7 separate regions of the Homo sapiens genome follow, and regions 1, 2, 3, 4, 5 and 6 are each reported to be linked to region 7. The links are microRNA targets in miRTarBase. Many come from high-throughput screens and were not tested one by one. Region 7 holds a microRNA gene; each other region holds the end of a gene's coding sequence.
The links. The annotated mature microRNA hsa-miR-122-5p reads UGGAGUGUGACAAUGGUGUUUG and lies in region 7 at 2,210-2,231, opposite strand. An mRNA with a match to its seed (bases 2 to 7 or 8) in the 3' UTR can be bound and repressed. Matches are read on the target gene's strand: a 7mer-m8 pairs with bases 2 to 8, a 7mer-A1 pairs with bases 2 to 7 and ends in A, and an 8mer does both.

Region 1 (3,097 bases), not on the chromosome of region 7:
CACACACACACACACACACACACACACACGCATACCCTTAGGAAGTTCACATTGTTATTTTAATGTGAATGCTTTGCCCTTGGGTATACAACCAACAAAATTTTATTTCATGGGATCTCGCCATAATTTGCTGAGATTTCAATTTATGACCTACTGTGTCTCCAGATTCATTTAGATTGCCTTATTTAAAGAATTAAAATCTACAATGCCAAGCTGAACTAGGACATCTTCTCCTTTTTCAGTGACTAGGACATGGTGAGCATTAATATATAACCTTGTTCCGAGATGATGCTCAGGTACCAGGTTAGCAAGTGCTGGTGATTATATGTGATCAGTGATCTTTTAGTGAATATTTACGCTGTGCTAGACACCATGCCCAGTGCTTTACAGGTATCTTCTTTCTCTCAGCAACTATCTATACTAGATGAAAAAATTGAGGATTAGAGATGCTAAGTGATTGCTCAAAGACCCACAGCTACTAGTAAGTGATGGAGAGCAAAGCTCCTGCTCTTAACCATATTTGCTTCCCTTTGGGTCTACAAATAAGAGCAGTTTCTATATTTTCCATGACATATTAGCTTTTTAGTACTTTCAGATACGCATTTACTTTGTTTACATGCTCCTTGAGATCACTAACCTTTTTCTAGAGGTTAAATGTTATGTCTGGTTTGCTACCAATTTGTAAAGCCTTCCTTGTATATCCAAAGTTAAGTAATCTGAATGTCAAAAGTAATAGCTCAGATACCACCTTGTTACATCAAAATTGTGTTAACTCTGAAAAGGACATACACGGATGCCTTAAATTGAAAATATCGGGGTGTTGGTGCTGAGGACACCATCACTGTCACCAATACCAACCACTGCCATCATCAACAGCAGCTACCATTGACAGCATCATTTATGTGCCAGGAACCATGGAACCATGGCTGTATGTTTTACATGCAGAGTCTCTTAAGTGCCATAATAAGCCAGTAGAGCAGGGATTATTATCCTCATTTTACAGCTATGGAAAGTTAAGCTCAGGGAGGTTGTGAAAGAAGATCTGGATTTCAGATCTTCTCAAAGAACTTTAAGTTCATTCTTTTCCTAAGTAGGTGGACCTCTAGAAGCCATGTTAAAAATAAATTTTAAAAATGAAGATCAGTGTCTGATCTATAATTGGCACCTCTGCAGCAATTTGGGATTATTCTTTGACTTGGGAAGATTTACGTGAGATCCCACCCCCACACACAACAGCAAGCTATTGTGTTAGATATTCAACCTGCGCCAAGGCAAAATTCCTCTTACCTATTATTTTGTCATTCTCTAATCTTTACTTCATGATGGCATCAATCAAAAATATCTGTCAAATGGGGACTTAACCTTTCTTTGCAATATAAAACCTTCCATAGAATCCCAGCATGTCAGGGTTGGTGATAGCTCACAGGTCATTTTGGCTAACCAGTTTTCCTTCTCCCATTAGAAGGCTTGGCTTTCTTCTCTATATTATTTATGGGGAGGGAGAATGGGACAGTCTGTAACAAAAGTATAGACATAATGAGATCAAATCATTTGTGGTAAACTGTTAGGAAATGCAGAAAGTTGTCCACATTCATGTTTGACTATACAGAGAACAAAACACGTGCTGTGATCAGTCAACACCTGACTGAACACCAAATGTCAAAGTATGTAACGCAGCTGCATGCCACAGGAAGTCAACTGGAATAATAATTTTAACAATTTATTTTGATATAATTTTTTTTTTTGAGACGGGTTTCACTCTTGTTGCCCAGGCTGGAGTGCAATGGCCGATCTTGGCTTACCGCAACCTCCACCTCCCAGGTTCAAGCGATTCTCCTGCCTCAGCCTCCCTAGTAGCTGGGATTACAGGCATGCGCCACCACGCCCGGCTAGTTTTGTAGTTTTAGTAGAGACGAGGTTTCTCCATGTTGGTCAGGCTGGTCTTGAACTCCCGACCTCAGGTGATCCCCCCGCCTCAGCATCCCAAAGTGCTGGGATTACAGGCGTGAGCCACTGTGCCCAGCCTTGATATAATTTTATACTTACAGAAAAGCAGCACGAGTAGCTCAAAGAACTCCTGTTTACTTTTTACCTAGATTTACAAGTTATTAATATTTTGCTCCATTTGATTTATCATTCATTCTTTTTATCCTGAACCACTGGAGAACACTTTTTTGACATCTTGTCCGTTTATCCATAAATATTTCAGCATTTGTTTCCTATAAACAAGGCCTTTTAGAATAATGAAATTTCTGATCAAAATACAAAGTTAACATAGAAGCCACCAGAATAAATGTCAAAATGTTAACTACAAGGAAACAATACTTTGCTTTCACGGATAAAGATAAGAAAAATACTTTGCCTTCATTCCTCACAAGAGAGGAATTTTTTGGCCTGTTTTGCTTACTGGGATGTTCCTAGACCTTGCCATGGTGCCTGGCACACAGCAGGTGCTCAGCAGATACCTGTGAATTTCTTAATGTGATGGTGTGATAGTATATTGACCACATTTGTAAACAAAGTATTTCTAAAATAAAGCAAAGGCAACAACAGCAAATTATCTAGTCATCTTTATTAGCTATAATTTGGAATTTGCAAGTGACAGAAAAGGAGAAAGGCTTCAGACGCAAAGGACTTTTAATAAGTTACCTTTTGAAGATGAGACAAGACAGGTTCTAAGCTAATCAGACGTGTCCACCAGGTGGACCTGCGCTCTTTTCACAGGTAGCGGTTCCTGATGTACTCTCGGTACATGGAGGAGTCCTCTTTTCCTAGGGGCTGCATGATACCTTGGCTGGCCTGGATGTGGGCTTGGAAGATCTCTGTAGATTTTCTGTCTACTCTTGGGGGCTGAACTTCATAGATGTTATCTTGCGAGAAAGCCGAGATGGGTGTTCTATAAAAGATGAATAAAGAGAGGGCTGCATTAAAGAAAATATAAGGAAGGACCACAGGGAGCAGTCTCAGAAGCACTTGAGAGTCGCTGGCATTGAATAAGCAGGCTGACTTTTGACAAGCTGCTGGGATGACCTCCCCAGTCCTTGCGAGGCTGGTTCTCTTCTCTGCCTGGAGGAGAGAGCTGGACCAACACCTCTGG
Region 2 (3,097 bases), not on the chromosome of region 7:
AGTAAAAACTAAATGACTGGACTTTTAATTATCACAAGTTTTGTTTTTTTTTAAGATGGAGTTTTGCTCTTTGTTGCCCAGGCTGGAGTGCTGTGGCGTGATCTCAGCTCACTTCAACCTCCGCCTGCCTCCCAGGTTCAAGTGATTCTCCTCTCTCAGCCTCCCAAGTAGCTAGGATTACAGGCGCCCGCCACCATGTCTGGCTAATTTTTGTATTTCTAGTAGAGACAGGGTTTAACCATGTTGGCCAGGCTGGTCTCAAACTCCTGACTTCAGGTGATCCACCCACCTCGGCCTCCCAAAGTGCTGGGATTACAGGCGTGAGCCACCGCACCTGGCTATAATTTTAAATGGTTTATGGCTCTGATACTCTGTGTCATATATATGTAAACTACCAAATATATATTTGGCTAAAAATACATATTGTTTTCTACATATAAATTCTCTCACATATTTTTGTTCTCTTCCCTTACTAAATAAACTTCACTGATAAGAAAAGAGCTAAGTAAACTGAGGGACACTAGCATTAAAACTTACTCTAAGGCAGAAAGACTGCTTGATGCCAGCCTGGGCAATGTAGCAGGACCCCATCTCTATAAAAAATAAATTAGCTGGGCATGTTGGCATGCACATGTAGTCCCAGCTACAAAAGGAGGCTGAGGCAGGACGATCACTTGAACCCAGGAGATTGAAACTGCAGTGAGTCATGATTGTGCCACTGCACTCCAGCCTGGTTGACAGACTGAGATCCTGTCTCAAAAAAACAAAAAACAAAAGAAGCCCTCATACAGCTAGTAAGTAGTGGATCCAGATTCAAAGCAGACAGTCTACTTTCAAAGTCTGTGCTCATCATCACTACGTTATGCTGCCTCTCATAGTATATACATCTGATCACACTTTAAGAACATCACAATAGGTAGAAGTTCTTAAATCCATCAGTATGGTTAAATAGTCTACTGCTTGGTCAACATTTCCTTCCATGGCATTAGTTAACTACCAAGTTTTATGCAGTGAGCAAAAGGTCAATATGTATATATACACACACACATATATTTACATATATGGACAAAAAGAACCATGTGACTACAATCTGTCTAAAAATATCCACCTGTTACCATATAAAACATCATACAGACTTTGGGAGTCCGAGGCGGGCAGATCACGAGATCAGGAGATCAAGACCATCCTGGCTAACTCGGTGAAACCCTGCCTCTACTAAAAATACAAAAAATGAGCTGGGTGTGGTGGCAGGCGCCTGTAGTCCCAGCTACTCGGGAGGCTGAGGCAGGAGAATGGTGTGAACCCCAGAGGCGGAGCTTGCAGTGAGCTGAGATCGTGCAACAGCACTCCAGCCTGGGCAACAGAGCGAGACTCCATCTCAAAACAAAAACAAAAACAAAAACATCATACAAATTTAGACATGTCCAAGACCAAAAAATAAACTCAGCTTCTCTCTTCCTCAGTAAAATAGTTAAGAAAAGGCTTTGAAGTTAGGCATCTTGGATTCAATTCTCCCCTCTGTTTCCTTTAGAGGATATACTAGATGGCATACACATAAATAGCAGACTTCCAGTGAACTATCTATCTATAAGTAGCTGTATAATATGTATGGTTGGCTGGGTGCAGTAGTTCATACATGTAATCTCAACATTTTGGGAGGCAAAGCCAGGAGGATTGCTTGAGCTCAGGAGTAAGAGACCAGCCTAAGCAACATAGTGATACCCTGTCCCTACCAAAAAAAAAACAAAAATCAAAAACAAAAAAAAACACATATGTTTTTTTGTGGTGTGTGCCTGTAGTCCCTGCTACTTAGGAGGCTCAGGTGGGAGGACTGCTTGAGCCCAGGAGGCAGAGGTTGCAGTGAGCATGATCATACCACTGCACTCCAGCTTGGGTGACAGAGTGAGACCCTGACTCAAAAAAAAAAACAAATCACTGTCATGGCAAGTATATGATCTAAGAATTGGTGCTTAGACCTCTATACTGCAATAACGAACAAATCAACTTCTACTGTGTTTACCTCAAAACAAGCAAACAAAAGCCATGAACCCAAATCATATTGGGAGATTTTTATTAACTTAAATTGACATTCTTAATTTTGTCTGTAAGTCCTTGGTATATATGCCTTTATTTGAAGCAAACCTACAGGTGTTTCTTAATATGACAGAATCATGAAGACTTGCAGTTAATCAGTGTTTCCTAATGATTAAAACAATGTTCAAATAATTACAAAGTTACTTCATCAAAATACTTAGAAGAATATTCTGAGGAGTGTTTGAAAGCTCTGTTTATAAATAGTGATTGATACATTTATCATGTATTTGGTGCTGAAGATAAACACTTTTTACATAAAACATTGTTTTAATATACTGCTCTACTAATGAGGCTAGTTATTAGATATACTGTATTTTAACACTAAAGAATAAAGCTTTATCTTCGTATTTATCTTATTTATAGGACTCTTATCAATGAAGAACTTTGTATCCAACAATAATAAACTGGCAAATTGCAAGTTACGTTTTGTAGGAGAAGCAAAAAAGACTGGCTGCGACAAAAGAAAGAAGATAACTGCATTATACATGCTTCGTACAAACAGTCCATTCTGAATGGTACAATTAAATGCAGTCCAAATCCTTTTAAATGTTTGTGTGCCTAGATGGCAATTACAATCTCCACACACTAAAAAGAAAAAGAACAATAACACAGAACACAGTATTCTTAATGATTATAGCACATTTAACACCTTCAGCCATCCACTGGGTTTTCAGATCATATTGGCAACTGAAATTTCACATCCACATGTGCTTGCTTCGCTAAGGTCACTATTTCAGAGAGCTTTACAACCTAAAAGAAAAGAACGAAGAATTTTCACAAAAAGGTAAATTCAGAACTACAGGTCAGTGCAAAATTAATGTACACTCAATTTTTTCCATTTAAAACATCTGGACTATTCTGACATTGCTATAAATCACATTACGTTCTTATAAGCAAATGACATTCTCAAAGGATAATCAAGTCTGACACTCCTCATAGTCCAAACTTCAATTAAATACTTTCTGATTAAGATGTTATACCACCTGCTAGGATTACACATATG
Region 3 (3,082 bases), not on the chromosome of region 7:
CTTTATGTAGTCCTGCTTCAAATTATTTTTATACAGAAAGGAATTCACCCTCTTTTCTTCCTAGATTAACAAAATTAAGAAGTTTGTCATTTTGTTTCATTTTATTTTTAATTGAGAGGCCCGTAGGAGTGATGCACTGATTAAAACTTGCTTTCCATTAGCCAGGTAGGATTTTGATGCCCACTTGCTTTCCCAGATGTTGATGTTGGTAGCGATACTTCCAGAATAAATATTAAACTATCTAAGAAATGTTAATATTTGCTATTATTCTCATTAAAATCCAGTTCAGATCTATTTCTCTGTTACTTTGACAGTGCCATATTGGTGCTGCCAAGCCTTCACATATGATCATCCCGCCTTTAAACTCTCTCCCCTGAACTTGGGTGGACCACACATCCCTGTGTGTGCTGCTGCTTCATTGAGACAATGGTTGTGATCTCTCTCCATGCCTCATTCCTTCCCCTTCTCTCTCCCATCCCTCCTTCTCCTAACCACACAGCACAACATGCCCTTCTGGAGGATATCCAGTCACTCAGACCTCCTGGCTCTCCACCAAGCACTGGAATTAGAGTATTTGTAACTGTGTTCTTTAGCCGGAGATCCATTTTTTATATTTCAAGTACACTGAATTTTTATGTGTGATTCAATGCCTCTGGCTCTACACATATAAATTGTCTTAATGGATGAAATCATATTTGGAATAAAAATTCCAGAATGAAGAATTCAGATTGCTGAATGGAGTTAAACTTTAGTGCTACAGAAAAGAAACTCTATGGTCTTATATTTACAACACTTTAATGGGTTTTTTAAAAATCTGTGGAGGTTGCTGGTACACACCAAATGAGTCCAAACTGGAATGAGCAGCTTTAGCAAAGAACTCTTACCCTGGCAAAGCAGCAACACACATGCTCCGTCTGACAAGGTGGTCAACAACATTCCTCAAAATGGGAGATCTTCTCAGCCCTGAGGTTTGAATCTGACTTTAGCCTACCTAACCCAGAAAATCTGAATTGGAATGCACTCAGACTGTATAAGGACAGTCCTATTTAGACATGTAATTTGTGTAAATTATTGATGAAAATAATTTACTGTGACTTTATTAGCAGCTGACTTTCAAAGTGGATGCAATTTTTCTTTCTTTTGTTGGGGAGGGGAATGGGAGGGGAAATGGGAATATAATATTGTCTCTTTTTTAAGTTTGGCAAACAGAATGTTCATACTGATGTGTTGTGCCTTAAAGACAAGACAGCATTTGTGTGTTACAATGTAACTTTGGTTAAAATCTCTGTAGATAATGAAAAAAAACAAAAAAAAAAACCTTTGTGATGATTCTTAACATGACCAAATTTAAAAGTCAAGCTCTCAGAGCTTAATTACCGCATCAGCAAGAAACTGAGTATTTTTTGCAATAAGAAAACAACAATAATAAAGGAAAGCTTGTGTTTCATTTGGGTTCTTAATAATTCCAATAATTGTATGAGGCAACTATTTGCGCATCCAACCATGAGTGGAAGGTTTGGGAAAGACTGTGGGACCTTTACTTAGAAAGTGAAATGTATGTAGAAGTCTCAAGTACCCCTTCTACAGTTTTACTGGAGAAAACTAAGAGCCATATTCATGACAACTTGCACAGTTTTGAGGTTGAGACTTTTGATATGTGTAAGTTGCATAGAGGAGGATATTATCATGCAAATCATGAGCAATTATCACATAAACTTTTTTAGAATGTGCCATGAACATGGCATAAAATTCACATTGAGTGCACAGGGCTTAAAATAAAGCTAAGTATGTTTATTCCCAATGCCATGGCAAAAATGATAATATCATCAGAAATGGAAGGCAGTTCTCCCAGATGGTGTCTAATGAAAGCAATGAGTCTATGAAAATTTTACCTAGAATATCATCATAAATTAAATTAGCAAGTGCGCTGGATCTTGGCAGCGCTGCTGAAATGACAACAGTAAAATAATACCTGGTTCTCCATCTGAATACATCAATGCAGGTTCTCCTCGTAACAGACTTGCATATGTTTGTTAGTTTCTGCCTGTATTGTCACTGCGCAACGGATGGCATTCATTACAAGAAGAGCCCATCATCGTTGTGTTTGCATGGTTTTTTTCCTTGTGTGTAGCCCATGTTGGGAACACGATACAGGTTCTCCTCTTATTTCCTATGACACGATTTCCCTTGTGGAAATTTAAGACTTTAAGAACTAGAGTATTTTTATGGTGTCTGCACCTGCAGTTCTGTGTTTAAAATGTCATAATGTGGATCCTGGAGTCAGGCTACTAGTCAGTGCCCCTAGCCAGAGGCTGGTTCATGAGTTCATCAACTGAGGCCTCTGTGGCTTCAATAAAGTCTACATTTTGCTCACAGATCACAACATTCACTGTGGAAATATGATTTCATTTCTTTAGGCTACAAACCTGTATTTCTTTACTGAATGCTAAGGCCATGTTTATATTGGGTAGAAAGATATTGAGATCCCAATTTTGTACAAGATTGTGATTTCATTATCTAAACCTTAAACTTAATCCTTTAAATTTTGTAGCTTTTGGCTGCATCTGCCCCAAGTACTATTCCAGGCAAATTAAAGTTGGAATACCTTTAATAATATAAAAATAATGATAGTAAATCTTATACTTCTGTTGGCCCTTAGCTTGAAAATAGCAGTTAAAAAAATTTAAATGTTGCCTTGATTATCAGTACTTAATTATGTTGTGCACTAAAACCTTAAATATTTATTACTGTGAATAAAAACAAATTATCTTTACTGTATAGCTGGTTTCTTTAAATGTTGATAGAATTGTGGCATTACATCTAAATTTGTAAGTCTTTTCATATCAAACAAGCAAGGCTTTTTATGCTGCTAAGTCTGTGGGTGCAGAAAGAAACACCCCTTGGAAGGGCAAAGAGAAGCCGGCTGGTTGCATCACCCCGTGCAGTTTCTCACACACATCTCTTTTTCTGATTCTGTGTTCAGAAGAGGCTGCCGGCATAAAACCTAAATGCAAGGTTGACGGAGAACAGCTTGTCTGGCACAACAATGGTGCAGGCCCACGAGCCAGCATCACAGCTTGGC
Region 4 (3,097 bases), not on the chromosome of region 7:
ACCCACCTGCAGCAGGATTTAAGTACCAGTCAGTTGGTCTGGGCCACGTTTCCAAAGTCACTAGGAGCCCTGAAAACCTCTGTATAATAAGGTAAGTTTTTCATTAAGCTATTTTTATTTTATGGTACAGGAAATTGGTTGAAGCTGTCAAAAAGAATCACTATTAAGCATGTTTTCTGGGGAGAAGAATTCTAGGACAGCTTATCAGAGGGGTCACCCCAGGAAAGGGGAGAGATGTCTGTCACAGCCTGATGGGTGGTGTCTCACCATTGATCTCTGGCAAGTTGTCCTGGAAAGGATGGTCAGAGTTCCAAAGTACAATATTATATTTCCAATTAAAATGTAAAAATAAACCTTTTTCATAAAACACATTGGCCTCGGCTCTGGAAAGCGACTACAAAGCCCAGTGCTTTGATTGAGACAAGCTGAAAGCAGACACTGTAATTGATAACGGAGATAAGTCAATCTGTGTCCTTTAGAGAATAATGAGTTCCATTTTTCATCAAAAAGATCTCCTTGTGCCGAAGAAACATACTTTCAATAAATCTACTTAATGGTTTCCCTCTAATGATATATAACATTGCTCTTTGGAACCGAGCGTTGCAGCGGGTCCCTGCCAACAACTGCAGGCCACCCATCATCTGCATTGGTAATTCAACCCAAAGAAAACCCAGGCGGTTCCCAGGAAGTGCTGCTGTGCAGGAGAAAATACCCGAAGGCCTTCCTGGACTCTGTGAGCAGGTAGAGAGGATGGGATTTGAATAAATAAGCTATCACTAAGCTTGAGCTCCTATGCAAATTTCCATTCCCTCGCCCCCACCACCATTGCTGTATTCATGGATATATCGGGTCTAAGGGTGACTTATCTAAGGATAAGCTGTGTCAGACAGCTCAAGAGTTAAATCCTTCAGATACGTGCGTCGTGAGAACTGATTAGCTGGGTTTGTTCCCGGAGCTCATTGCTCTCCTATAGACCTGACAGCCTTGGTGTAGTTTGATGTGGGCTGCCGGAGGGAGCCTGTGTTTATTGCATTGGGTAAACTGAAGATCCACTTCAATGATCCTGCCTGAAGCAGTCCCTCGCCCCATTTGAGGGTCTAAACCTCAGGTGGCGAAGGCCTAGCAGAAGGAAGGGCCTGCGCCCTTCAAAGGGAATGATTTAGGGCCATCTGCGCCCTGGTGTCAGGCAGCAGGACTGGGTTTCCATCCAGTTTACCTTTGTGAGCCCCAACTTTACAAATGTGCTGCTTTTTTTCGCAAGGACTCAGCTTTATGTAACATAACCTATTTCCTCCAAGGGCACCCAGCCCTCCCAATACTGACGGACTTCCCCACATGGGAATCATTAAAAACAACCCTAGAGTTATTTCCTTATGTTGCTGTTTGTTTATTCTCCAGTCGCGTGTGAGTCAGCCAGATCATGATTTGTGGTGGTTTTGCTTGTGAAATCTTACATAATTATATTCCTATTGTCATGTTGGGTCGAGCAGTTAGACCATGTAGTGTTTTCTCATTGCACAATGTTTGCAAATCAATAAGGAGAAAGCCTGAACAATGCGATGACGTTGGCCAGGAACCCGGCCCGAGTCACCCAGGAGGCGGCTCTGCAGTTTCTCAGGTACAGCCTATCCATTCTCTAATCCCACTGCTGGGCAGTGACTAGGCCGGGTGGTGGCCTTTCGGATGGGTTTCACGGAGGTGATATTTAAAAGATGAGAGTGAGAGAACAAAAGAACAACAACAGCGCTTCACACAGAAACCAACCACATTTTTACTGCATCTGCTCCACGCTGGATTCCAACATGCTGGCCCGGAGCGTGGCTGGCTGGAAGCAACTCCAACAGGTTTTTCCCTTCCCCGTCATGTACATTATTTATTTTTGATCCTACTCACTGTCCCAAGTCCAGAGGCAGTTACAAAAAACACTCTTGATGCAAACCGTGAGTGGCTACAACACACGGATGGGGGTGGGCGCGATTCCCACAACAGGGAGTGGAATCCGGGAAGATGATATATAGGGGCAAGACGCCCCCTTACTTGCTAAGAGTATATGGAGCTCAAAACCCACAATTGCTTTGTTTTGTTTCTCAGTTCCTGGAGTATGTTGAAACTACTTGCTCTTAACATTAGTTCGTATTTTTCATCAGATATCTGACCTGATTTAAAACATGTTTGTTTGCATACATCTTTTTGTAGTGCACCTTATAGTTATTCCTACTGATATAGGATGAAGATTATAAATATCTGCATAAAAAGAGAAACCATGTGACTCTATATGAAGACAACCATCACATTCCACAGCACATCATTGGTTCATTTTCGAATTGTCAAGCAGTATTTGAAATGAGAGAGAGAGAGAATATAACTGAACACAAGCACCACGACAAAACAATCATAACAACAGAACCAAACCCAACTTCTCTATTATTAATCATGTTAAAATTTTAGCTTTGTTTCTAACACTTTTCTTTACTTGTTATTTTAAGCTCCAGTAGCAGGATCAGATTTCTGCTGCCTCTAGGCAAATGAGTTATGATCTGATCTCGAGTTCCAAGGGAAATGCTCAAAGTTTTATTTTTCCCCAGTTGAATAAACAGTACCATGTATATTATCTCTCGTGTTAGAATAGTGTTGTCTTCACATAAGACTCAAATAATGGTATTAGTCATTCATTTCCCTGAACACAGACACCCTCATGCGTGCTGACAGGTTTATAAGGATGCGGTGGCAGCCGCGGGTTCTGGGAGCTGCTAGACGGCCGAGTTTGATTTCTTGCAGTCCTGAGCGATGGAGCCCGGGGGTGCCTGGTTATTGTCCGCTTTCTCTCTCAGATGCTTGGCTTGTCTGAAAGATTAATACATTAACAAGAGCTGAAGGCCTGGGGTTGCACATCTTCAGACATGTTTATTAGCAGATGGCACAGAGGATTCAAAGGTCACCACAAAAGTGACATTTTAAAGTGAAACAACAATATTTATGTTCAGATAGTCTACTGATGAGATCATGTGGAAATGTTTTTGATTAAATTAGCTTATAAATGGTTGACAATCTATAGACAACTTAAAATGCCATGTCTGTTTACCAAATGTTTTCTTCT
Region 5 (3,097 bases), not on the chromosome of region 7:
AAAATGAAACACCAGCTTGGGCAAAGCTATCTTCCTCATGCCATTTTCTAATTGATCATATCCCCCAGATGTGGGAAACTAATCACTTTTGTTTAAAATTAGTTTTTGCGGATCTAATGGGCGTCTAAATAATTTTTTTTTTTTTGAGACGGAGTTTCGCTCTTGGTGCCCAGCTGGAGTGCGACAGCGTGATCTCGCTTCACCGCGACCTCCGCCTCCCAGGTTCAAGGGATTCTCCTGCCTTGGCCTCCTGAGTAGCTGGGATTACAGGCAGGTACCACCACACCCATCTAATTTTGTATTTTTAGTAGAGATGGGGTTTCTCCGTGTTGGTCAGGCTGGTCTCGAGCTCCCGACCTCAGGTGATCCGCCTGCCTCAGCCTCCCAACGTGCTGGCATTATAGGCTTGAGCCGCCGCGCCCGGCCTAAATAATAATTTTTAAAAATTACTCTTTTTTGGTTTAGAATTACTTAGCTGAACTGTGCAGAAGCAAGCTTCTGGATGCCTTGATAAAAAGCCAAAGTTGTACACTAGAGGGCTTTAGGATGAATAAAATGTTAAAAAACGCCAACAGGACGAGGTGGCTGATCACCTGAGGTCAGAAGTTCAAGACCAGCCTGACCAACATGGAGAAAACCCGTCTCTACTAAAAATACAAAATTAGCCATGTGTGGTGGCACATGCCTGTAATCCCAGCTACTTGGGAGGCTGAGGCAGGAGAATCGCTCAAACTCGGGAGGCAGAGGTTGCGGTGAGCCGAGGTTGCGCCATTGCACTCCAGCCTGGGCAACAAGAGTGAAACTCCGTCTTAAAAAAAAACAAAAACAAAAGCAAAAACAAAACGCAACAAAGCGAGACATGACAGGCAATGAAATAAATAAAAGGAGGCAGATCTCCTAAAGCCAAAATGTCCTATGCAGACAAACAGCATTACTGTTCACCCTGCATGGTGCCCACTATCATGCACAGTTGTATATTTAGGAGAAAAACGTTTTGGTACGCCAAAATACAAGATAAGCAGATAAAAGGGAAACCTGTGTGTGTTATTTAGTTATTCGGTACTTATATAAACCACTTATTTTACTACAACAAACTTCGAGGGCCACATTATAGCAGCCCAATACACTGGGAAAAGGAGTTTCTTTTCACAAGGACAATATTACTAGAGATGAACATTAAAAATTACTTAATAATCTAATAGAAAATTGGAAAATTAACATACATTCTAAAGAGAAGCAGAAGTTTACCTGGTTATTCAAAGTTCATATAATAATTTCCACATGTATAAAAAAAAAGAGAAGGGCACGGTGGCTCACACCTGTAATCCCAGGCTGAGGCAGGTGGATCACCTGAGGTCGGGAGTTCGAGACCAACCTAACCAACACGGAGAAAGCCCATCTCTACTAAAAATACAAAATTAGCCAGACGTGGTGGCGCATGCCTGTAATCCCAGCTACTTGGGAGGCTGAGGCAGGAGAATCGCTTGAAACCGGGAGGCGGAGGTTGCAGTGAGCCAAGATCACGCCATTGCACTCCAGCCTGGGCAACAAGAGCGAAACTCTGTCTCAAAAAAAAAAAATAAAAAATAAAAAGAACCAATTACCTAGAGGAGGGCCATATATATAACTTGGTTTGCTTTGAAACTCAAGACTGCTTCCCTAGGATATGGAATTCAAGCTGAATGAAAAGTTGTAGAGCTGGATGAGAATTTATTTCTCTCCGTGAAGGTATAATAGCATCACCCCTATAAGAAGATAAGCTCAAATACAACCAAAATTTCGATGCCCTACGCCCTGCCAGTAAGGGAGGAAAGCAGAGGTTACGATTTACAAGTAATTCTCTATGTGTTCTTTGGGAACCAGGATCCTCTGAGTCAATCCCTTCCAATCTCCTAAGTTTATTTTTAAAAATCTGAACCTGGCCACCACTTTACATGATGAGACTTAGAGACTGGTATCACAGCTTGATTTCAGAAGCTTACTTTCAAAAAAAATTTATTCAATGAATACACAATATAATTCCATTTCGAGTGATTAAAACCTATTTGTTGTTTAGAACCAAACAAAACTACAAGAAAACATTTTCAAAACCTTTTTTTTCAGGCTGAAGAAATCGTTTAATCCATTTTAAAGAAATCTCACATGATGTTCTGTCGGGATTAAAAATATACACGGAAAAAAATAAAACAAAATATATACACAGAAAGAAGCTCGCACAGAGTCAGGCGTGCAGCAACGTCACACACTCATTCCTTTCTGTTTCCTCTGGACACTCAAAATGTGAAAGCAAGTAAGAGGGGGGTGGTTAACCAAACCTTTTGGTCCAAGGAATAAAATTTCTTTAAAAAATTTAAAACGTCAAAACCTGCCAGAATAAGACAATAGAAGAGCGTATCGTCAGGCGCTGGGAATGGCACCACGACAAGGCATTAATGTGGATTCACTTGCACAGCTGCTCTCATAAAAGCTACACGATTCAGAGGTAACCCTAACTATCCGCAATCCCAACCAAAGTCATGTTCATGCCGCTGTCCTAGTCTGGACAATCATCTGTCACTCATCCAACACAGTTATATACAGAATGCGCAGTCCCAGCAACAGTGTAGATTACAGCAGGCGTTCTCTACCTGGACTCATGATTGGATTTCATTTCTAAATTACATCAGAGCTTTCAAAGATTGAAATACACAAATCTGCACTACCCAAGCCTCCTTGCCTGTACGGGAAACAAATCAGAAGAGCATTTATTGGGAACTGACACGTCAGGCCTCACAGGTGCTGGGCAGGAATCACAGAGGCTTGCTCTGCATCATGTCTTCCGTTAACCTGAAGCTTTGGGTTTATTGTGTTTGGCAAACCACTCGTCACTTTTATCTGCTGCCATTGCCTGTAAAATAGAAATAGAATATACACTGACTCCAAGCCTGAAAAACAAAAGACATAGCCCACTTTATATCTCACTGTACTGACCACAATAAAAAAAATTAACATTAAAAAAAGGACCCAAACCCCCGCTCCAAAAAAAAGAGAAGAGAAATAAAAAAAATTTTTTAACATTTAAAGAGTATTAATCCAGTACAGAGTGTTATGTTCAATA
Region 6 (3,000 bases), not on the chromosome of region 7:
GTGGCACAATGGAGCTGAGCCCCTCCTCTGCCTACAGGTCACCCACGTGTTCTCCAACATCAAGATGGGCGTCCGCTTTGTGTCTTTCGAACACCGGGGCCAGGACACACAGTTCTGGGCTGGCCACTATGGAGCCCGTGTGACCAACTCCAGTGTGATCGTGCGAGTCCGTCTGTCCTAGTCCAGCACTACCCTTCTTGCAAGACAGCCTGACTGTGCCTTCCAGGGCCTGGGACCATTGGCTGGGACCCCTCATTAACCAACCAAGCACTTGTACCTCCCTGGCATACTGAGAATTCCTGGGTCCAATCAAAGGCCCTGACGGGCCCTGTCTTCAGGTTCTAGAAACTACCAGAAGAAGCTTCTTCCATCTTATCTACCTACTGCAGCTGCTGCTTTGCGGGGGGGCCCTACTGTACTGAGGGGAAACCCACAAGTGAGCATGGGGGAATGCCCATCCTGGAGAAGAATTCTTGCCCTCCCCTCTCTTCTCCTCCCAACCAAAACCCTCCGATCCAGCCCCAGGCCCCTCTGTACCATCCCCTCCCCTCCGCACCACTGACCTCTTGTCTCCTGTTGTTTCTGCCACAGGGACTTCCTTGGTCCCTTCAGGGAAGCCCTCAACTCATCTCTGAACTTAGAATCTCATCCTTAGGGCTCAGAGAGTCCCAGCCCTAAGGGTGTGAACCTCACCTCCTGGGGCTTCCGAGCTACAGGGCTGGGACCAGGTCATGCAGCTGAAAGTCTACGTTAAAAAAAAAAAGTTTGGGCCAGGCACAGTGGCTCATGCCTGTAATCCCAGCACTTTGGGAGGCTGAGGCAGGCGGATCACCTGAGGTCAGGAGTTCAAGACCAGCCTGGCCAACATGGTGAAACCCCGTCTCTACTAAAAATCCAAAAAATTAGCCGGGCTTGGTGGTGTGCACCTGTAATTCCAGCTACTCGGGAGGCTGAGGCAGGAGAATTGCTTGAGCCCGGGAGGCAGAGGCTGCAGTGAACCAAGATCATGCCACTGCACTCCAGCCTGGGCAACACAGCGAGACTCCGTCTCAAAAAGAAAAAGTTTGGATCAGGCAGGGTGGCTCACACCTGTAATCCCTGCACTTTGGGAGGCCAAGGTGGGAGGATCAGTTGAGCCCCAGAGTTCAAGACCAGCCTGGGCAATGTAGTAAGACCCCCATCGCTACAAAAAATACAAAAGTTAGCCAGGTACAGTAGTACACACCTGTAGTCCAAGCTACTTGGGAGGCTGAAGTGGGAGGATCATTTGTGCCCAGGTTGAGGCTATAGTGAGCCATGATCATACCACTGCACTCCAGCCTGGGTGACAGAGCGAGACCCTGTCTCAAAAAAAAAAAAGAATTTGGAGATGGTTCTGCCCACTCTGGTTTCTCTGAAAAAACGAGGTAATTCCCTGAGCCCAACCCTGATCCTCAAGGACCTGTAATTGTGTGGTATTTAAAATTAAAATAACATTATTTTTATTTTGACTTTTTTTCAAACAGTAAGAATAATATATCAGCAGCATGTATCTGCCAATCATATGTAATAAATTTCTTATTTTGCCAAAACCACTTCAGATCTTTTTAATAGAAATGCAGAGTTACTGCCTTGGTTGAGAATCATAAGTAGTCCCAGTTGAGGAGGGAAAACTGTACGAAAGCAAACACTAGCTGAGGCCGGGCGCAGTGGCTCACACCTATAATCCCAGCACTTTGGGAGGCCGAGGTGGGCGGATCACTTGAGGTCAGGAGTTCAAGACCAGCCTGGCCAACATGGTGAAACCCTGTCTCTACTAAAAATACAAAAAATTAGCCAGGCATGGTGGCACGCGCCTGTAATCCCAGTTACTCGGGAGGCTGAGGTAGGAGAATCGTTTGAATCCGGGAGGTGGAGGTTGCAGTGAGCCAGGATCGCATCACTGCGCTCCATCCTGGGCGAAAGAGCGAGACTCCGTCTCAAATTAAAAAAAAAAAAAAGACAATAGGTCCAGCCTCTAGAGAGCTGACTCCCTGGATCCCCTGGCTGATTTTGGTGAGTGCTGGCTACAATGAGGAAGAAAAGCATGGCCCAAGTGACACCTTTGGCTTTTTTCCCTCTCTTCTGTAGGCTGCAAGAGAAAGGGCCAAGACTTTCCCAAAATGAGTTTTTGGTGGGTCAAAGACAGTAAACAGTTTATAGGTGCTCTTTCCTCCAACTGGGAGTAAAAGAAATTAAATCTATTGCCGGCCAGCTCAAAGCTTTCGATAAGCCAGATGGGAAAAAAAGAATAAGATAAACATACACAGTTGGCCCTCCATGTGGCTAGCTTCTGCATCTGTGGATTCAACCAACTGTAGATTGGAAATATTCGGGAGGCTGGGCCTGGTGCCTCACGCCTGTAATCCCAGTACTCTGGGGGACCGCGGCAGGTGGATCACTTGAGGTCAGTTCGAGACCAGGCTAGCCAACATGGTGAAACCCCGTCTCTACTAAAAATACAAAAATTGCTGGGCATGGTGGCTCACACCTGTAATCTCAGCACTTTGGGAGGCTGAGGCAGATGGATCACCAGAGGTCATGAGTTCGAGACCAGCCAGGCCAATATGGCGAAACCCCATCTCTACTAAAAATACAAAAAAAAAAAATTAGCCAGGCATGGTGGTGGGCACCTGTAATCCCAGCTACTTGGGAGGCTGAGGCAGGAGAATTGCTTGAACCTGGGAGGCAGAGGTTGCCGTAAGCCAAGATCGCGCCATTGCTATCCAGCCAGGGCAACAAGAGCAAAACTCTGTCTCAAAAAATAAATAAATAAAATAAAAATGCAAATTAGCCAGTCGTGGCAGCAGGTGCCTGTAATCCCAGCTGTCTGGGAGTCTGAGGCAGGAGAATCGCTTGAACCCGGGAGGCAGAGGTTGCAGTGATCCAAGATCGCTCCACTGAACTCCAGCCTGGGCGACAGAGACTTTGTCTCAAAAACAGACAAACAAACAAAAAAATTAGCCAGGCATGGAGGCACAC
Region 7 (3,097 bases):
GAGATTTCACAAAATAACTAGGCCAAAGGAGGCTGCAGGTACAGGACAGAACTTTAGACTTAAGAGATCCATGTTGAGTTGTGGCTGGAGGACCAGACGATTCCAGAACCCTTTAGACTCTGTTTGTCAAACCGATCATCTTTGCCCCATGTTGTATGGATCAAATGAAATGGCATGTGATATGGTTTGGCTGAGTCCCCATCCAGATCTCGGCTTCAATTGTATCGCACAGAATTCCCACGTGCTGTGGGAGGGACCCAGGGAAAGGTAATTGAATCATGGGGGTCAGTCTTTCCCCTGCTATTCTCATGATAGTGAATAAGTCTCACGAGATCTGATGGGTTTATCAGGGGTTTCCACTTTGGCTTTTTCCTCATTTTCTATTGCTGATGCCACGTAAGAAGTGCCTTTCATCTCCCGCCATGATTCTGAGGTCTCCCTAGCCATGTGGAACTGTAAGTCCAATTAAACCTCTTTTTCTTCCCAGTCTCGGGTATGTCTTTGTCAGCAGCATGAAAACACAGACTAATACAGTGTGCATGAGCGTGATCTGTATAACAGTAGAGCCCTCTATTAATGCCTGTTCAATTAGAGCCTTTGCCAAAAAAATACACACAAAAAGGAATGTCAGTGTCTCAATTATTTCAGGGAGTCTGATTCTCTTCTTGACAGTAGATGGTGCCAGGAGGGAAGAAATGAGAGGTGGTAAGAGATGCAGGGCAGGCAGGGGTGCTCTTCTTCTTCTTTGGACAGAGGCATCTCATGACCTTGAAGCCTTTGTAGTGTATCATAAATGTGTGGGCTGCATTCAGGTGAGGCTTTCCAGCAAGGGACTCAGAATTATTTCGCAAAGTTTTGCTCATTTGGCTCCCGTTTGGAACAATTACAATGGTCCCAAAATATAATGCGAGCCAGTGAATGCCCATCTCTGGAAATAACATCAGACACATTTAATTTAAAAGTGTCTTCAATGCCTAGGACAGTGTCAGGCACACGGTAGTCTCTACACATATTTATTTCATAAGTGAATGGTTGAATGGTTGAATTTGTTTCTGATGGTTGATCTAACCCTGTCTATTTGATTAAACATGTCCTACTTCATTTAACCAAGCCTGGGGAGGGAAGCTTTAGTCTGGCACAAACGAAACCTACTCCTGACTTTAGACACCTCTCAGAGACAGAATGGGTTCCAAACCAGAGCACCTGGCTGGGCCAACTGTCCTAGAAACTGCATGGGTCCCAGATTTGCTATGGCAGCTCACACATGCTTCATAAACAATTTTCTGATGGTAATTCACTGATGCAAGAGGAAGAAAGGCCTAGTGTACGAATTCAGTAATCAGCCTAGTAATTGATTGAAATCAGTAGAAATCAAACATATTCTAGAATTTCTGAAACGTCAGTGAAACCATGTGTAAGTTTATTAGAAAGTTGGATTTTTTAACGACGAAAAGAGAAGGACCCACACACCTTAATTTTGTACCTATAAGCTTGCGGTCTGTCTGCATAACATAGATTTAGCCCAGTCTTAGCCTTCTGCGTCTAACACTTTCCTAACTATTCATTTTAAGTCTATAAGCATGGGTTAAATGATTACCTCGTGCCTGGCCTTGTGTTGGGGGCTCTGAGGAACTCTGCAATCTTTTTATTTTCATTTTTTGAGACAGGATCTTGCTCTGTCACACAGGCTGGAGTGCAGTGGTACCATCACAGCTCACTACAGCCTCAACCTCGTGGGCTCAATTGATCCTCCCACCTCAGCCTCTCAAGTAGCTGAGATTACAGGCACATGCCACCATGCCTGGCTAATTTTTGTAGTTTTTGTAGAGACACGGTTTCACCATGCTGCCCAGGCTGGACTTGAACTCCTGAGCTCAAGTGATCCGCCTGCCTTGGCCTCCCAAAGTGCTGGGATTTCAGGCGTGAGCCACCGTGCCTGGTCTGCAATCTTTTTATTGACTTGGGAAAACAAGAAAATTAATCACCAGCTAAGGTATGTAACAACAGCATGTGAGAGGCAGGGTTCAGCTAACCATATTGGTTATGAGTGCAAAAGAGCCAGACTTTATTCAGTAAGTACACAAGATTGAGAAGACTGATATCAGATGAACCTTCTTGCTCAAAGCAAACGATGCCAAGACATTTATCGAGGGAAGGATTGCCTAGCAGTAGCTATTTAGTGTGATAATGGCGTTTGATAGTTTAGACACAAACACCATTGTCACACTCCACAGCTCTGCTAAGGAAACTCTGTAGCCACGAAGGTGTTAACTTCACCTCCACATTCCACCATTGTCACTGATAATAGGGGAACCTTGTCAGCTCCACATATTGTGACCTAAGCAGAGAAAAGAAGCATCACGGGTACAAGCATCTTGAGCAATGGGAAGAGCTGAACACTCTCAATGAAAGGCTTCTGTGTTCTGGAACAGTAGAGTAGTAGAGGGGTCCACTGCCTGTGTTCCACTGCCACCCAGCAAACCCCTTCTGCAAAAACTTCCTGTGAAAATGGACAGGAACTCTGTTTGCAACAATTTTCTAAAATGGCTGAGAGAGAAAGAATCTCTAGAGGGAATAGATTTCTGGAAATAAATACTTATTGGAAGACTACATTATAAATGAGAATAATCTGGCCGAATGAATGGATACTCTCCAACTCTCACCTCTTCACCTACTTCCCAATCCATCATCAGTAAATGTGATCAATTCTGCAGTCTAGGAAAATTAAAATTATTTTATATGGGGATACAGCAGTTAGATGTGTTGTGATCTACTCTCCGTGGCATCTATTGGATATAAAGGCATCTGGTCTTGCTCAAATGTTCAATCTTCTTGACCACAGTCATTTTCCACCATGGCGGTGGGTGGGAGATGAGGGGAGAGAAGAAAGAGAGGAAGATGGAGAGAGAGGAAACGAGTCCATTTTTAGTTCATGATACTCATTTTCTAGCAAAAAGGGAGCTCCAAATAAATCCCTACAGGATTTACTTGGCTTTCCTGTTAAAGATGGTTTATAATTGTTATGTGAACTCCTGCCCACCATGGAGAATGAGAGGAAATAAAGCATTTTACCTACTCCTTCTTTTCCTGCAAATGC

Region 1: miRTarBase lists FIG4 as a target of hsa-miR-122-5p. The part of its 3' UTR that is shown has no 7-base or 8-base seed match.
Region 2: miRTarBase lists SUCLA2 as a target of hsa-miR-122-5p. Seed matches in the 3' UTR shown: 7mer-m8 at 2,269-2,275.
Region 3: the mRNA of EYA4 is a reported target of hsa-miR-122-5p. The part of its 3' UTR that is shown has no 7-base or 8-base seed match.
Region 4: the mRNA of STAU2 is a reported target of hsa-miR-122-5p. The part of its 3' UTR that is shown has no 7-base or 8-base seed match.
Region 5: the mRNA of GLOD4 is a reported target of hsa-miR-122-5p. The part of its 3' UTR that is shown has no 7-base or 8-base seed match.
Region 6: miRTarBase lists FBXO27 as a target of hsa-miR-122-5p. Seed matches in the 3' UTR shown: 7mer-A1 at 1,016-1,022 and 7mer-A1 at 1,312-1,318.

What each region holds. Positions count from the first base shown.
Region 1 is chr6:109,824,887-109,827,983 of GRCh38, reverse strand. FIG4 (FIG4 phosphoinositide 5-phosphatase) reads right to left here. Exons shown (of 23, transcript NM_014845.6): 23 at 2,558-2,896. The coding sequence ends at 2,719. Among named protein-coding and RNA genes, the nearest start is that of FIG4, 140 kb to the right of the region's middle.
Region 2 is chr13:47,940,602-47,943,698 of GRCh38, forward strand. SUCLA2 (succinate-CoA ligase ADP-forming subunit beta) reads right to left here. Exons shown (of 11, transcript NM_003850.3): 11 at 2,055-2,844. The coding sequence ends at 2,770. Among named protein-coding and RNA genes, the nearest start is that of LINC00562, 9.5 kb to the left of the region's middle.
Region 3 is chr6:133,528,226-133,531,307 of GRCh38, forward strand. EYA4 (EYA transcriptional coactivator and phosphatase 4) reads left to right here. Exons shown (of 20, transcript NM_004100.5): 20 at 500-3,082. The coding sequence ends at 580. All of the region lies in intron 6 of TARID (TCF21 antisense RNA inducing promoter demethylation), which reads right to left. Among named protein-coding and RNA genes, the nearest start is that of EYA4-AS2, 73 kb to the left of the region's middle.
Region 4 is chr8:73,418,622-73,421,718 of GRCh38, forward strand. STAU2 (staufen double-stranded RNA binding protein 2) reads right to left here. Exons shown (of 15, transcript NM_001164380.2): 15 at 1,748-2,844. The coding sequence ends at 2,751. STAU2-AS1 (STAU2 antisense RNA 1) reads left to right here and starts at 1,453. Exons shown (of 3, transcript NR_038406.1): 1 at 1,453-1,618.
Region 5 is chr17:757,352-760,448 of GRCh38, forward strand. It overlaps GLOD4 (glyoxalase domain containing 4), which reads right to left. Exons shown (of 9, transcript NM_016080.4): 9 at 1,979-2,887. The coding sequence ends at 2,822. Among named protein-coding and RNA genes, the nearest start is that of GEMIN4, 6.6 kb to the left of the region's middle.
Region 6 is chr19:39,022,592-39,025,591 of GRCh38, reverse strand. It overlaps FBXO27 (F-box protein 27), which reads left to right. Exons shown (of 6, transcript NM_178820.5): 6 at 38-1,571. The coding sequence ends at 181. Among named protein-coding and RNA genes, the nearest start is that of FBXO27, 8.5 kb to the left of the region's middle.
Region 7 is chr18:58,450,222-58,453,318 of GRCh38, reverse strand. It overlaps MIR122 (microRNA 122), which reads right to left and starts at 2,245; the gene lies at 2,161-2,245. It overlaps MIR122HG (MIR122 host gene), which reads right to left. Exons shown (of 3, transcript NR_170245.1): 3 at 2,038-2,500. MIR3591 (microRNA 3591) reads left to right here and starts at 2,167; the gene lies at 2,167-2,239.